Linked DNA regions of Homo sapiens: region 2 is linked to region 1. The links come from fine-mapping of genetic effects on gene expression. A gene starts in region 1. The other region holds a variant in brackets. All regions are shown on one strand. Distances are between the middles of the regions.

What was found. PIP is the estimated chance that this variant, and not a neighbour inherited with it, causes the effect.
Region 2: its variant is fine-mapped to the expression of AK3 in whole blood (INTERVAL, PIP 0.97).

Annotation. Positions count from the first base shown.
Region 1 is chr9:4,737,793-4,746,122 of GRCh38, forward strand. It overlaps AK3 (adenylate kinase 3), which reads right to left and starts at 3,410. Exons shown (of 5, transcript NM_016282.4): 1 at 3,145-3,410. The coding sequence starts at 3,295. RefSeq lists silencers at 2,940-3,079, 3,310-3,799.
Region 2 is chr9:4,713,511-4,721,840 of GRCh38, forward strand. AK3 (adenylate kinase 3) reads right to left here. Exons shown (of 5, transcript NM_016282.4): 3 at 5,625-5,797; 4 at 4,909-5,027. LOC124902112 (a long non-coding RNA gene) reads right to left here and starts at 4,902. Exons shown (of 2, transcript XR_007061401.1): 1 at 4,746-4,902; 2 at 3,564-3,772. The variant C/A (reference allele first, on the strand shown) is at 3,855.

The sequences.
Region 1 (8,330 bases):
AGTTTCAGTGATGACCTACAGTTATTCCAGCTTTGCTACTGTCAATGAGTTGCCTAAAGTTTCCAGTGTCCTTATCATATCTCCTGTGATGATTTTAAACCTTAGCTATAAAATACAGCCATGGGTTATAAAATATAGCACCCTCATGAAACAATGACTGGAAACTAAATTGGCACAATCCTTCTGTTGTATTATTTGATAGTACCATATTTGTAGAAATTCCATACTAGGAATTTATTTGAAGGAAATAAGCAAAGATTTGCCAAATGTTTATGTGCAGGGATAGTCATAACAGTATTTATTACAACAAACAATAGTTAACAACATACGCGTCCAATAAAAATGTTTAATAACTATACAACTTTGATAAAATTAAACATCTTTTTTTTTGAGACAGAGTTCCGCTCTTTTCACCTAGGCTGGAATGCAATGGCGCCATCTCGGCTCGCTGCAACCTCCGCCTCCCAGTTTCAAGTGATTCTCCTGCCTCAGCCTCCCAAGTAGCTAGGATTACAAGCGCCCACCACCATGCCTGGCTAATTTTTGTATTTTTAGTAGAGACAGGGTTTTGCCATGTTGGCCAGGCTGGTCTTGAACTCCTGACCTCTGGTGATTCACCCACCTCAGCCTCCCAAAGTGCTAGGATTACAGGCGTGAGACACCCCGCCCAGCTTAAACATCATTTTTAAGACTGCTTAATGATGTGTGAACATGCTCACTATAAATGAGAATAAAAAAGTAACCTATCATTTAGAATATGACAATTTTAGAATACAACCATTTTGCAAATACAAATGCAACAGAAATAAAAAAGAAAAAGAAAAAAAAAGAATAAAAGAAAATGCACCCAAGAGTTAATTATAATCATCTCTGTGTGGCAAGGCAGAATTATGAGGGATCTTAATTTACCTTTTTTACATTTGCATGAAATAGATATAGTTTCCTTCTTTTATAATAAATATGCTTTACTTTTTTTTTTTTTTTTTTTTTTTTGAGACAGGGTATCACTCTGTCTGTCACCCAGCTTGGAGTGTAGTAGCACAATCTCGGCTCATGACAACCTCTGCATCCCGGGCTCAAGTGATACTCCCACCTCAGCCTCCAGAGAAGCTGGGACCACAGGCGCGAGCCACCATGCCCAGCTAATTTTTTGTATTTTTGGTAGAGACGGGGGTTTCGTCATGTTGCCTAGGCTGGTCTTGAATTCCTGACCTCAAGTGACCTGCCCGACTCAGCCCCCAAAGTGCTGGGATTACAAGCATGAGCCATTGCGCCAGGCCTACTCTCCTAGACTTTGGTTAACCTGACCCCAACCAGTAGCAGTATCTGGGACTGTTTAATGTTACCTAACTACTTCAGTATGTCGCATTAACAACATTTAGCAAGCAAGTCAAACAATCTCTGTTCTTTCTTTCTTTTTTTTCGAGATGGGGTCTTGCTCAGGCTGGAGTGCAGCGTTGCAATCTCGACTCACAGCAACCTCCGCCTCCCAGGTTCAAGCGATTCTCTCTCCTCAGCCTCCCGAGTAGCTAGGATCACAGGTGCCTGCCACTGCGCCTCGCTAATTGTTTTTGAATTTTTTATAGAGACGCAGTTTCACCAAGTAGCCCAGGCTGGTCTAGAACTGCTAAGGTCAAGTGATCCGCCCGCCTTGACCTCACAAAGTGCTGGGATTACAAGTGTGAACTGGTTAAATAAATCATACTAGATTCAGAAAATACATACTACAAAAACAGAATGAAATGGATTTGTCCGTTTTCATGTGAAATATATCCCAGACACAAAGTGAAACCACACTAGTGCAGAGTATATACACATAGTATGCTCACATATTACATACAAGAAAAGATACACGTTGGCCGGGCGCGGTGGCTCACGCCTGTAATCCGAGCACTTTGGAAGGCCGAGCCGGGTGGATCACGAGGTCAGGAGATGGGGACCAGCCTGGCTAACACAGTGAAACCCCATCGCTACTAAAAATACAAAAAATTAGCCCGGCGTGGTGGCATGCGCCTGTAGTCCCAGCTACTAGGGAGGCTGAGACAGGAGAATTGCTTGAACCCAGGAGGCAGACAGAGCAAGACTCCGTCTCAAAAAACAAACAAACCAAAAAGAAAAAAAGAAAAAAGGTACACGTATCTGCGCTTAAAAAGTAAACCTTTCTAGAAGGAAAACTCTGTTCCCCTCCGAAGAATGGGACTGAGGTAGGGAACGAAAGAGGGCGTTGTTTTTTATGCTATGCACGTCTATCCTGTTTGCTATCCTTACAAAAAAAAAAAAAAAAAGAAGGAAAACAAAAGAAAAAGGCCTTGTGGAAGCATTATTTCTATGTAAATGGGTTTCAAAATGAGTTTCAAAACGGGTTCTATTTTGAAAAGTAAGGTCAACATTTTTTGAGAAAAAAACTCCTGCGATTGGCTTTTCAAAAACAACCCTCTTAAGAGAGAATTTACATACCACAAATTCACCCATTGTATAGTGTAGATTGTTAACTGCCTTTCGTGCCGAGCTGTAAGAATTTATTTGGCATGAGAAACAAAATATTTTATAGAACCATGCACAAGAATAGCCTTCGTGTCTACGAAATCTAAGGATATCAAAATGAGATAATTTTATGACTGCAACAAGGGTAAATAATACTTGGCCTTGGGAATATGGGGGAAAGGTCAGAACTACAAGATCTCATAGAGCTTAACCACACCAAAAAAGAAAGAGAAAAGAAAGAAACAAAGAAAACAAAACAGAACGAGCAGACTCTAGCAGGGCTAATGACAGTCTTCCAAAGGCACCAGCACGTTGAACAAGCTGCGGCTCAGCTCGATGGACCCCCAAGAGTGGCTGCCACTGGGAGGACTTGGGCCTCTGAAACAAAGCCCGGTGGTTTCCTTTCATCTCTGAACTTCGAGCTCGACCTAACTTTCCAGTCCCTTCCCCCACCGCCACCCCATAACCCGCCCGAAGCGGCCCACGGAGGCCGGAGGTTTTGGGGCGCAGTCGCTCAGCAGCCCGAGGTCTCTGTCCCGGGCGGCGGGAGGGAAATGCCGCGCCCGCAGCCAGGGACCCGCGTGCCCAGCTTCGGCCCCTCGCCCGCGAAGTCCGACCCGGGTGACAGCGCACGGCCGGCCCTGGGCCCAGAGCTCCCACCTGTGCCCCGCAGCATGTTGTCCCGGAGCAGGTCCCCGCTGGAGAGGTGCTTCAGCTCGAAGTGTGTAGTGATGCGCGACGACACGGTGCCCTTGCCCGAGCCCGGGGCCCCCATGATCACCGCTCGCAGCAGCCGCGCGGACGCCCCCATGGCCGCAGACTGAGGCCCGCACCGCGCGGGTACCAGGGCTTTGGCCTGGCCTGCGCGCTCACCCGCTCGGCAGCCTGCGCCGGCCGGCTAGCAGCGCCACTAGCAGGCGGCTACTGCGGTTCCCCGGCGTTCCCGGAAGTGAGCCGACAGCCCCTGGGGCCGCCCAGACAGCGCGGGACCCCGCTGTTGCGTCCGCCTCTCGGCTACCCCGGCGCACCCCCCGCCCCCGACCGAGCGCCTGTTCCCGCCCAGCCGCGCAAGCCGCGCAAGCCGCGCCCCCTCTGCGCTCGCTCGGCCGCCCAGCTCCCACCTGCGCCTCTCCGCGGCCCCTCTCCACCGGCCGCTGGGCCCGGATCCCTTCGGCGCCCCTCTGCACCCACCCCCACGCGCCCTCCACTCGGCTCAGATCTACCTCCGCGCCTCTCCGCGACCCCGGAACCCCGCGCCCTGTCCGGCCCATTCCCAGCCGGATAGACCGCGCTCCCCTCTGTCCGACCTTGGCAACTCCTGCGCGCCCCCTCCCCACCTCTAGTCGCCCCTCGGAGCCGCTTGGTTTCGGGATCCACCCGCATCCACCCCTCCAACAACCCTTTCGTAGCCCTCGCCCCTAGTCCATAGCAGGCGCTGCCCTACCCAGTCCTTGCCGGACACACCGCGACCCCTTTCGTGCTCCCTTGACAACCCTGGCCCCACCTCCACCTGGCGCCCACTCGAATCCGCCCCTCCCTTCTACCCCCCTGGACCGCCAGACCCCCCGCTTCTGCACCCACTCCCGCCTTCGCCCTTCCCTCCTTCCTCCTCCTCCTCTGCTGCCGAGCGCCCTCTCTTCCCACTCCCTCTCTGTGTAGAATCACAGGGAGTGACCTTGAGCCGAGAGGGCCTACCTCATTTTACAGGAGAGGAAATCCAGCTTCCATTGAGTGAGACTCTTTTATAAATAACGTAAAAGAGTGTGTGAAACTGTGGAGGCAGGCTGTTGTAGATAGGCGGTCGGAAAAGCTTTGAAGAGATGGCATGTGTGCTGAGTGCTTAATTAGAATATGGAAGAGAGAGACATGGGCCCTTCCTATGTCCAGTTTTAGGAAAAGGCCCTAAAACTGGAGGTTTGGCATGTTTCAAGAATGGAAACAGAGGACAAAAACGTTCGAGTGAGTATCATTTTGCCTGTAAAATGGGCATAGAGGAGTAGAATGGAGGAGTTAAAATAATGTAGTACTTAGTGCAATGCCAGCTACGGGGTCAATGTTCAATAATGGTTGTCCATTTATCATCATTGCTTTGTCCCGGACACTATGCTAAGGCAGAAAGAAGGCTCTCTGAAAATAAAACACAGTTACCATTCTCCTCAGAGGTCCAGAACTGATTTCAAAGAAGATAGAAATGACTTCAGGGTGAGACAGTCAGTGAATCGTAGCTGAGTGAATGGATGGGGGATTTCAATAGGTAGACAGCCTGGTACTTAGAAAAGGCATTAGCCTTTATACTTTCTGGTGTGGAAAAGAAAGAAAGAAAATACATACCTTGTACATTTTTTTTTCTTTGAGACAGAGTTTTGCTCTTGTTGCCCAGGCTGGAGTGCAATCGGCTCACGGCAACCTCTGCCTCCCGGGTTCAAGTGATTCTCCTGCCTCAGCCTCCCGAGTAGCTGGGATTACAGGCACACGCTACCGCACCCGGCTAATTTTATATTTTTAGCAGAGACAGGGTTCCTTCATGTTGCTTAGACTGGTCTGAAACTCCCGACGTCAGGTGATCCACCCGCCTTGGCCTTCCAAAGTGCTGGGATTACAGATGTGAGCCACCGCGCCCGGCCTCGTTTTGTTTCTTTGAGACGGGGTCTTGTTTTGTTGCCCAGGCTGGAGTGCTGTGATGCGATCTCAGCTCACTGCAACCTCTACTTCCCAGGTTCAGGTGATTCTTATACCTCAGCTTCCCGAGTAGCTGGAATTACAGGCACCCGCCACCACGCCCAGCTGATTTTTATATTTTTCGTAGAGATGGGATTTCACCATGTTGGCCAGGCTGATCTCAAACTCCTGACCTCAAATGATCTGCCCGCCTTGACCTCTCCAAGTGCTGGGATTACAGGCTTGAGCCACCCCACTGTGCCCAGCAGGGCTCATACATACTCATTACTAAGCAAGAAAGAATGAAAAGAATGAAAATAAATGAATTAAACATTGAATTCATGTAATTGGGAAAAGGACATCAAAATAACCCATGGAAAGCAGAGGAAGGGATGAAGTAAACAACATAAATGAAAGGATGAGAAAACTTGAACAGAACTAACTAAAGAATGAGCAAGTCTGGACAAGTACAACTTATGCAATACTAGAAAATCTGAAGGTGTGGAGAAAGTACTTCTAATCTCCAAAGCTGGGAACATAGGAGGTTTCAGCTCCAAAAGAAACCAGAAAGAAAATCCTGGGGAAATTTGGTTTAGAAAAAAAAAATGTTCAAACAAACAAAAATAGCTGAGGAATCATCCTGTCATTGCGGGGATGAAAAGCTGAGTGTCGTGGTCATATTAACAGGCCCGCAAAACACCAATCAACTTTGGCTTTGCAAAAGGTTGTTGATTACAAATGAGTAACTGCCAGTCTGTGAAATCTCCTGGCAACTGTGCCTGGCATAGTCTTTTCGCCATTCACAGGCCTTTGTATGGATCTGTTCCTCACTGCCTACCTTGTTCCAACTGAAAAACACTGAGGTCAAATTCATTCAAATTCTAATTTAATGACCAAGTGTTTATACAGATTAGTTTGAAGCAAATAAAGCCCAGATGAGTGCTTTGCACATAGTAGGCACTCAGTAGGGTTTTGTTGATTAAATACTAAGAATTACTGTTTTGTCACTTTTGTTTGTTTGTTTTTGAGACGGAGTCTCTCTGTCACCCAGGCTGGTGCAGTGGCGAGATATTGGCTCACTGCAACCTCTGCCTCCTGGATTCAAGAGATTCTCTTGCTTCAGCCTCCCAAGTAACTGGGACTACAGGCCTGCACCACCATGCCCCGCTAATTTTTGTATTTTTAGTAGCGGTTTTGCCATTTTGGCCAGGCTGGTCTTGAACTCCTGACCTCAAATGATCCTCCTGCTTTGGCCTGCCAAAGTTCTGGGATTACAGGCATGAGCCACCATGCCCGGCCTTTGTCACATTTGAAGACTGAAATGTTTAAGTCTTCAATGTACAACTCTACAATGTACAACTGAGGGGGAAATGATAGGCATGTGTCATGGGTTGAATTGTATTCCCCCAGGAGATATATTGAAGTCCTAATCCCCAGTACCTCAGAAGATGACCTTACTTACACATAGGGTCTTTGCAGACATAAGTAGTTAAGATCAGGTCATAGTGGAAGATGGTCAGCTCTTAATCCAATATGACCTGAAAACATAGCAGGAGAATGCCATGTGACGATGGAAGCAGATATTGGGCTTATACAGCTACAAGCCGAGGAACACCAAAGATTGCTAGGGACACTAGAAGCCAAGAGAAAGACACAAAGCTGATTCTCCCCTAGGATCCTTGGGAGAGAATAACCCTGCCCTTACCTTGGCTATGAATTGTAGTCACTAGAACTGTGAGAGAATAACTTTCTATTGTTTCAAGCCCCCTAGTTTGTGGTAATTTGTTACTGTAGCTCTAGGGAACTAATACAGCTTGTTTCCAAGAAACATGTATATGTGTTTGTATGTTGCTTCACACTATGTGTTACCTAGGTGAGAACAAAAGAATAGGAGGGTTCATGTTTGAGAAATAATTACTAGGATTGTAGTGATTGTAGTAAGACAAAGAGAAGGAAGGTACATCAGTTATCCACTACTATAAAAATCCACTCCAGGCCAGGTGTGGTGGCTCACACCTGTAATCCCAGCACTTTGGGAGGCCAAGACGGGAGGATCACTAGAGTCCAGGAGTTTGAGACCAGCCTAGGCAACATAATGACACCCCCTCCTCTACAAAAAAAAAAAAAAAAAAGAAGAAGAAGAAGAACATTAGCCAGTGTGGTGGTGTGCACCTGTGGTCCCAACTATTTGGGAAGCTGAGGTGGGAGGATTGCTTGAGCCTGGAAGGTTGAGGCTGTAGTGAGCTGTGATCACACCACTGTACTCCAGCCTGGGCAACAGAGCAAGACCCTGTCTCAATAAATAAATGAATATCCTGGCCGGATGTGTTGGCTCACACCTGTAATCCCAGCACTTTGGGAAGCCAAGATGAGCGGATCACTTAAGGTCAGGAATTCGAGACCAGCCTGGCCAACATGGTGAAACCCCCATCTCTACTAAAAATACAAAAAATAGCTGGGTGGGATGGCATGTGCCTGTAGTCCCAGCTACTTGGGAAGCTGAGGCATAAGAATCACTTGAACACTTGAACCCGGGAGGCAGAGGTTGCAGTGAGCCAAGATCACGCCATTGCACTGCAGCCTGGGTGACAGAGTGAGACTCTGTCTCAATAAACAAACAAACAAACAAACAAAAATTAGCTAGGCGTGGTGGTGCACACCTGTAATCCCAACTACTCAAGAAGCCGTGGCAGGAAAATCACTTGAACCCGGGAAATGGAGGTTGCAGTGAGCCGAGATCGCACCATTGCACTCCAGCCTGGGTGATAGAGTGAGACTCTGTCTCGAAAATAAATAAATAAATAAAATATCTGGGGGAAGAATGTTCTAGAGAGAAAAAGAACAAACGCAAAGCCCCTGAGGGAGGAGCGTGCTTGAGTTTCCAAAGAAGCCATTCTGCCTGGAACAGAGAGAGCAAGAAATGAAAGTTATTCAACAAGAAAGCTCAGGGAGGTAGTGAGGGTCCAGACCTTACAGGGCCTAACAAACCACTGTGGCAAATGGTATTGTCTGAAGATGGCCACGACGCCCACTCCCAGTCCATGAGCTTATCTTCGACACTTCTCCCATCAAGAGGTGAGGTCCCTGTCCCCTCCACCTTTAACTGAATAGGCTTCTGTGACTGTTTTGACCAATTGAGCATGGTGGAAGTGATATTATGTGACTTCCAAGGCTAAGTCATAAAAGAC
Region 2 (8,330 bases), 24 kb before region 1:
ATAAGATACCAGAACACCCATCAGCCTTTTTTTTCTACTTACTCTTTTGCAAAAGCTACTTTCTAATACTTGAGTATCTTTCCTTTTTGCCCAGGCCAACATTTATGTTCTCCTCTATTCCACTCTTCTGAATATTAACAGAAAGGGGAATAAAAAGTGTTGGTTTTATTGGGTTTCCTATTGACTGTCTTCATTTCTTCCCAGGCAGATTTGTCTAGCTTGTCACTAGACCAGCAGCCAAAGTCTATTTTATTTACTCCAGTTTCCTGTGGATAACATGGTGAAGAGTGAGATCAGAATCCTGGGGGTGCTTTTCAAGCCACACAGATTCCCTCCAAAGATTCTGGCCTTCCTCTTGCTAATACCCGTCCTCTAGCCCATGCGTACACCTACGCCTACACATATACACCTCCACATATACACACCTCCACATATACACGCCTACACATATACACACCTCCACATTTACACACCTACACATATACGCCTACACATATACACCTACACATATACAGCTACACATATACATCTACACATATACACCTACACATATACACACCTACACATATACACACCTACACATATACACACCTACACATATACACACCTCCACATATACACACCTACACATATACACACCTCCACATACACACACCTCCACACATACGCCTCCACATACACACACCTCCACATATACACCTCCACACATTCGCCTCCACACATACACACTGGTGTAAAGACTGCATAAGGACAACCTAAGAACTCTGGTTTATGACTTTGTGAAAAGAGGATTCCTTATACCTGTGTGGCCCTTCTTCCGAGGTTTTCAGGGCTTTCACTAAGGACAAAAGCATTCTTCCCTTGATACCTCATAAAATTTGCCACAGTTAACTTAAATAACACCCACTGTTTTCTCGGTAAGAAACATCTGCTAAGGAAGGAAATTATGCAAATACAGCATTCTTGGGATATTAGAAACCCTCCTGCTTCTAAATTCACTGGCACCTGGTACTGCTTTCAAGGGAACAAGCTTCTTAACTGTTGTAAGCCTCTTGAAGAGCCGATTTAAAAATCAAGCCAGTGTCACAAGTGGGTTAATTACTGAGGGCACAATTGCAGGCACCTATTCGATCCTAAATCGTGGGTGAACATTTGTCATTTTAATTTCTGTGTAATAAAATGGAACCAGCTTCAACAATTGGTCCTCCAAAGAGTAAGGGCATCATGTTGTTTGTAAACATAGACCAGTTACTCTATAATGTCCCACAGCTAAAAGGTTTTTTTTAAAACAACCAACAATACAACTGTCAGCATTTCTAAATAACAATGCTGACTATTACTAACATTCTTGCAAATAAACTTTCAGTTTTTAGTCAAGTCTCGCTGAGTTCTACGTGTGGGAGCTGAGAATGAAAAGACTGAATTCGGCCGGGTGTGGTGGCTCAAGTCTGTAATCCCAGCACTTTGGGAGGCCAAGGAGGGTGGATCACTTGAGGTCAGGAGTTCAAGACCAGCCTGGCCAACATGGCGAAACCCCGTCTCTACTAAAAATACAAAAATTAGCAGGACATGGTGGCACGTGCCTGTAGTCCTAGCTACTGGGGAGGCTGAGGCATAAGAATCGCTTGAACCTGGGATGAGGAGGCTGCAGTGAGCTGGGATGGCACCACTGCACTCCAACCTGAGAGAGAGTGAGACTCCGTCTCAAAAAAAAAAAAAAAAAAAAGAAAGAAGGAAAGAAAAAGAAAAGAAAAGCTTGAATTAACAGCAAAAGGCAGCAAAAGCCAGAAGGAGCCTAGAAAGACTTCTAAAATATCTCCTAAGACAGGGGCCCGTGTCTTTCACTTCATCTTCGCAGCTTTCCTTAACTTCCCTTACTACTTTTTTTTTTTTTTTTTTTAAGACAGGGTCTCACTCTGACACCCGCGCTCTAGACTGCAGTGGAGCAATCATAGATCACTGCAGTCTTGACCCACTGGGTCCAAGCAATCTTCTTACCTCAGACTCCCCAGTAGCTGGGACTATAGGCATGTGCCACCATGCCTGGCTAATATTTTTTTTTATGTTTTGTAGAGACAGAGTTTCACCATGTTGCCCAGGCTGATCTTGAATTCCTGCCTTTTCGATCCTCCTGCCTTAGCCTCCCAAAGTGCTGGGATTACAGGCATGAGCCACTGTCCCAGGCCCCTTCCCATATTTTGATATTTTGACAGAACGAATCCCAACAACCCCTGGTACTTCACTGCTTTGGGGGATTATCATTCATAGCCTTGCAGTGGTGGTGTTATCTGCCCAGCAACAATGCATTCTCCCTTCCTCTGGTTACCTTTGGGAAATAACCTCTCCACCAAACTCAGTCGACGAGGTTCAGGAGAGACTGTCCCCACTCCCCATCTTCAAGGATGGACATGATCAGAGCTAATCGGTGCCGACCCCAAGACTTTTGCTGGCAAAAGAGGCTCTTTGCTGCTGGGGTTTCTGGCTGGTAGGAGGTAAACTGGAAAGCTGAGGGGCTGCTACACAGGGAGGGCACACCTGAGACTGAAGCCAGCACAGGACAATGGAGCGGAGTGACTGACGCCTGATGATAGGTGTTTTTGAACACCTGGACCCATCCATCTATCTTTGACTTTTCAGTTACATTACCAATAAATTCCCCTTTTGCTTAACCTGGTGTGAATTAGGTTCTTAGTTAATATAAGCACATATCATATTGTATGATAAATACTGTTTACCCAGCTCCCCACCTCACCCACAAACATAGCTTCTTGGAGCCTGACAGGGACTGGATCTAATTGTCCATGTGGACCAAGGGCCTAGCACAGTGTCAAGAGAGTGAACAATAATTGCTGACAATGAATGATTTAATAGACACCAGGGCTGTTGTAGGACTTTCCAGGATCTCTCACTTAATTCTTTTAACAACCCTATAAAGCAGATGCTATTTAATATTGCCTGATTTTACAAATAAGGGATTTGTGGCATGGAGGTTAAATAGCTTGCCTAGGGCAAAAGAGACGGTAATTTTCAGAACCAGCCTCATTAAACAAATGACAAAATTATAGTAACAGCTACTACAAAAAATGGTTTGCCAACCTTGTAATTTTATGCTCCAGAAAAAATTAAGATGGTTTGAAAGGCCAGGCATGGTGGCTCGTACCTGTAATCCCAATGTTTTGGGAGGCCGAGGCAGGAGGGTTGCCTGAAGCCAGGAGTTTGAGTAGCCCGTGCAACATGGCAAGAGCCCCAGCTCTAAAAAAAATTTTTTTAATTGGCCAGGTCTGGTGGCACGGGCCTATAGTCCTGGCTACTTGGGAGGCTGAGACAGGAGAATTGCTTGAGCCCAGGAATTCAAGGCTGTAGTGAACTATGAAAGAACCACTGCACTCCAACCTGGGTGACAGAGTGAGACCCTGTCTCTAAAATAAATAAATAAATAACAGTTTGGAAACTATTGCTTCAGATTTCTACTGCATACATACGCTATTACAACAACAATAACAATAGCTAACATTTCTATAGTGCTTTCTATGCGTCAGGCCCAGTTCTAAGAGTTACCCATATTAATCTTTCAAACCTTTATTCTCTTCCCCAATTTACAGAGGAAAAAACAGGCAGAGGTTAAGCAGAAGGTGAAGGTGAAGATGGTGAGCTGGGACTTGAACTTAGGTATTCTGGCTCCAGAGTCTGTGTTCTGCCCAAGATACTGTTCTGCCCTGATCAGGATCAGTATTCAATAAGTACATAAATGAAAGGGGAGGCAGTCAATCCTCTGTAAGAAGCAGGAAGGCTCAGTAAGAAAACTGGAGTATTTCTTAGCCTAAGTCAAATACTCATTCAGTACGGTTCCTATA[C/A]GTGTTGCAGACAAAACAAGAGCAGACAAAACAATGTTAAAATGTAAGCTTTTAAAGACTGCTAGCCAATTACATAGTCTGAGGGATTAGCTGCCATCTGAGATTCTTCCACACCATAGCATCCTGTATTGGCAAATGTGGTGGGCAATATTAAGTTTGCCTCCCCAGCATTCATTCCAGCCCTGCCTCCCCTACCGACAATCCCCAGCTTACAATTATTCAATGCAGGATTTTTCAGCTTTATGATGGTGCGAAAGCAACATGCATTCAATAGAAATTGTACCTCGAGCACCTGTACAACCATCCTGCTTTTCAATTTCAGTACAATATTCAGTAAATTATGTGAGATATTCAACACTTTATTACAAAACAGGCTTTGTGTTAGATGATTTCGCCCAACTGTAGGCTAATCTAAGTGTTCTGAGCATGTTTAAGGCAGGCTAAGTTATGGTGCTTGGTATTTTCAAATTACAATGGATTTATTAGGATGTAATTTCATTGTAAATTGCGGAACATCTGCACATAGCAGAGTATGGATGAGACTGTCGCACTGCCAACTCTAGAAGTGGACTAGTCAGTGTAATCAGTGGAATCCTTCCCACCCCAATGACTGGTTCTGCAGTAGGCAGTAACCCAAGCCTGTAACAGTTAGTGCCAGGCATTCCCTGACTGTAGTTCAAGTTGGCTCCATCCGAGTGGTGCTCTGGGCTTCTATTCACTGGAGGAAAGGTTACCCCTCAGCCCTTCATAGAAGAGGAAGCCCTGGCTGTTCCTACAAATGTCTGCTACCATGCAGGAAGCCTAAGGACAAAGCCAATACACACACAGGAAGGCAAAACCAAGAGAACGGCTACACTGATCAAACCCAGGTGTGACTGAAGCCCAACCTACCTTCTGGACTTCTGTTACACAAGCTAATGTATTTCCTTTATTACTTAAGCCCATGTGAACTGGGTCTTTTGGCATTTTAGCATTTCAGCTGTAGAGGAAGGAAAATCAAAACTAGACTTAGTGCACCACTACGCAAGAGAAGTTCTGAAAAGCAAAAACTCACTGGTAATATTCCAGGACTGGCTTTGTTTGGTCTTCATAAGCCTTTAGTCTCTTGATAACCGTCTCTGGTTTATCATCCTCACGCTGAATGAGAGGCTCCCCAGTCAGGTCATCAATGCCCTAAACAGGATTAGAAGAGACTAGTATCAGATATCATATTTCTGAAAGATATTTTCATAAGCAGTTCAATTATTTTTAAACAGACATCTCTGTGCAAGTGCCAAGCACAAAAATGTGCTAACTTTTAAAAAAATGGAATCCAACCTCAAAAGAGATCATCGCAACAGAAACAGGGTACGCCAGTTTCATTTCTACAGTTATCAGTCACTTTAGCCTTAGAGTAAAAGGTTTTCTAAGCAGCCTCTAAGTAAGTTCATATATATTCAAAAAGATTCAGCTATAAACTTGGAATTTCAACTGCAAGTCCTAAATAAACCAAGGTGTTATGAATCTCTATCAGCGCAACTCCTAACACACTCCTTGGCAGAGCAGGAAATCAACAAATGTTTTTGAATGAGTAACAAACCCCTGCTGCTCCTGGGGCAACCTTTCGCACCAAGCTCAGTGGACTTGATCAGTCAACTCTACCAAGTAACCTGAGAATATACCCTCAGGAGTTTTGGTCAGAGGATTTCCAAGTTCACTCAACTTATGTCTGTTAGGGCAAGAGGACTCAGGGACAGTCTGCTATGTGACAGTTCCACAACAACTACTCACCACAGTTTTGGGAGGGTTGAATTCAATGTTATAGACTCGGCCACTGGCGGGATGAATCCAGCGAGCAGTAAGGCGTTGTTTAATGACCTCAAAGGGCACATTCAGGTTAATCACTGTGTCGATCTGATAAGCTCTATCTAGGGCTTCTGCCTGTGGAAGTGTCCTTGGAAAACCTTTATAAAGTAAAAAAGAAAAAGAAGAAGAAAAAAGAAAGGAAGTATGGGGTGGGGGTGGGGCGGGTGGAGAAAGAAGAAAGAAAAAGAAAGAATTAATGTTGGACAATCTGAACAAAAGGAATGAGGCTCACCAGGCAGGCCGATCACAGCTGCGGTGCAACTGTGATGGTTACCTGTCAACTTGACTGGGGCATGAGTGCCCAGATATTTGGCAAATATTATGCTGGGTATATCTGTCAGGCTGCTTTTGTTATGAAATTATCATGTAAATAGGCAGACTGATAAAGTACATTGCCCTTCTTAATATGGGTGGGCCTTATCTAATCAATTTTAAGGCCTGAGTAGAACAAAAGGCTGACCCTCACCCAAATAACAAAGAATTCCTCCTGCCTGCTACCTCTAACTGGGACACAGGACTTTTCCCGCCTTTAAACTCAAACTGAACTCATGATCTTCACCCAAATCCAGGGACTGGCCGGGCGCAGTGGCTCACACCTGTAATCCCAGCATTTTGGGAGGCTGAGGAGGGCGGATCACCTGAGCTCAGGAGTTCAAGACCAGCCTAGCCAACATGGTGAAATCCCATCTCTACAAAAATACAAAAATTAGCCTGGCATGATGGCAGGTCCCTGTAATCCCAGCTAGTTGGGAGGCGAGGTGGGAGAATCGCTTGAACCCGGGAGGGGAGGTTGTAGTGAACCAAAATTCTACACCAGTGCACTCCAGCCTGGGTGACAGAGCAAGACTCCTCAAAAACAAACAAACAAACACTCCAGAGGCTATTTCTGAAATATGACAAAATGAAACTAAAGTCCAGCTAAAGGAAAACTATTAATGCAAAAGGATAAAACCCTAACAGACAAAGAGATGTGTTATATAGCTAAACAATGTGGTTCAAAAACAGAGAGACAGGCAAATGTACCTAATGAGTGAATTCAGAAATACACCCAAGTATATTAGGGAATTTAAAATAATACTTTGATCACAAACTTCTGACTTTGCAATGTTGTTACTAAGGACATTTTGTCCAGAATACCAGAAAAAAATTAAAATTAGTAGAAATAATATATTTTCAAAAATGACAAAAGTTAGGCCACACATGGTGGCTCACACCTGTAATCTCAGCACTTTGAGAGGCTGAGGCGGGAGGACTGCTTGAGCCCAGGAGTTTGAGACCAGCCTGGGCAACATAGCAAGACCCCTTCTCTATAAATAACAACGACAACAAAATTAGCAGGGCGTGGTGGTGCATGCCTATGGTCCCAGCTACTCAGGAGGCTGAGGCAGGAGGATTGCCTGAGCTCAGGAGGTCAAGGCTGCAATAAGCCATGATGACTCCATTGCACTGCAGCCTGGTGACAGAGCAAGACACTGTCTCCAAAAAAAAAAAAGTGACAAAGGTTAAAACCGCACATGCATAATTTGTTAGAGCAAAAATATCATCTGAAAAATTACATTTTCTTGTTAACAATGAAATGTGGAAAAATTTGCCAGTGATCTAGACCTTACAATGTGCTAAAATGACAATGATAACGACTAAAACTATACCCAGGAAACCTGGATTCGGGAGAAATAATGGCCCTTTCCTGGGCAGCATCACCAGCCTACCTTGGTTTACCTTGTTCCTGCTGCCAAAGATAACCTGTCTCTCCACCCATGTAATCCTACTCATTCCTCAAGACCTCCCACAAATGGGAATGTTTTTCAGCCCCTTACACCTCATAAAGAAGCAAGACTTTTCATTAAACTTTTTAAAACAAAATTTTGAATTCTGAACCATGCAACATATTTTGTTTTAAAAAGGAGAAGATGCCAGGTGCGATGGCTCATACTTGCAATCCCAGCACTTTTGGAGGCTGAGGTGGGCAGATCACTTGAGGCCAGGAGTTTGAGACCAGTCTGGCCAACATAGTGAAACCCTATCTCTACTAAAAATACAAAAATTAGCCACGTGTGCTGGTGGGCACCTGTAATCCCAGCTACTCAGGAGGCTGAGGCAGGAGAATCACTTGAACTGAGGAGGAAGAGGTTGCAGTGAGAGGAGATCGCACCATCACACTCCAGCCTGGGCAACAGAGCCAGACACTGTCTCCATTAAAAAAAAAAAAAAAGTGCCTACTCCTCAACTACATTACTCTCTGTTCACATCAACTTCTTTTTTTTTTCTGAGACAGAATCTCACTCTGTCACCCAGGCTGGAGTGCAGTGGGGCAATCTCGGTTCACCGCAGCCTCTGCCTCCCAGTTCAAGCAATTCCCCTGTCTCAGCCTCCCGAGTAGCTAGGGTTACAGGTGTGCGCCATCACGCCCGGCTAATTTTTGTATTTTTAGTAGAGATGGAGTTTCACCATGTTGGCCAGGCTGGTCTTGAACTCCTGACCTCAGGTGATCCGCCCACCTTGGCCTCCCAAAGTGCTGGAATTAAAGGCGTGAGCCACTGCCTCTGGCCCACATCAACTTCTAATTTACCTCTTAGCACTTATATCTGTGCTTATCCAAGTTTTTGTTTACTTGTTTACTACTTGTCTTCT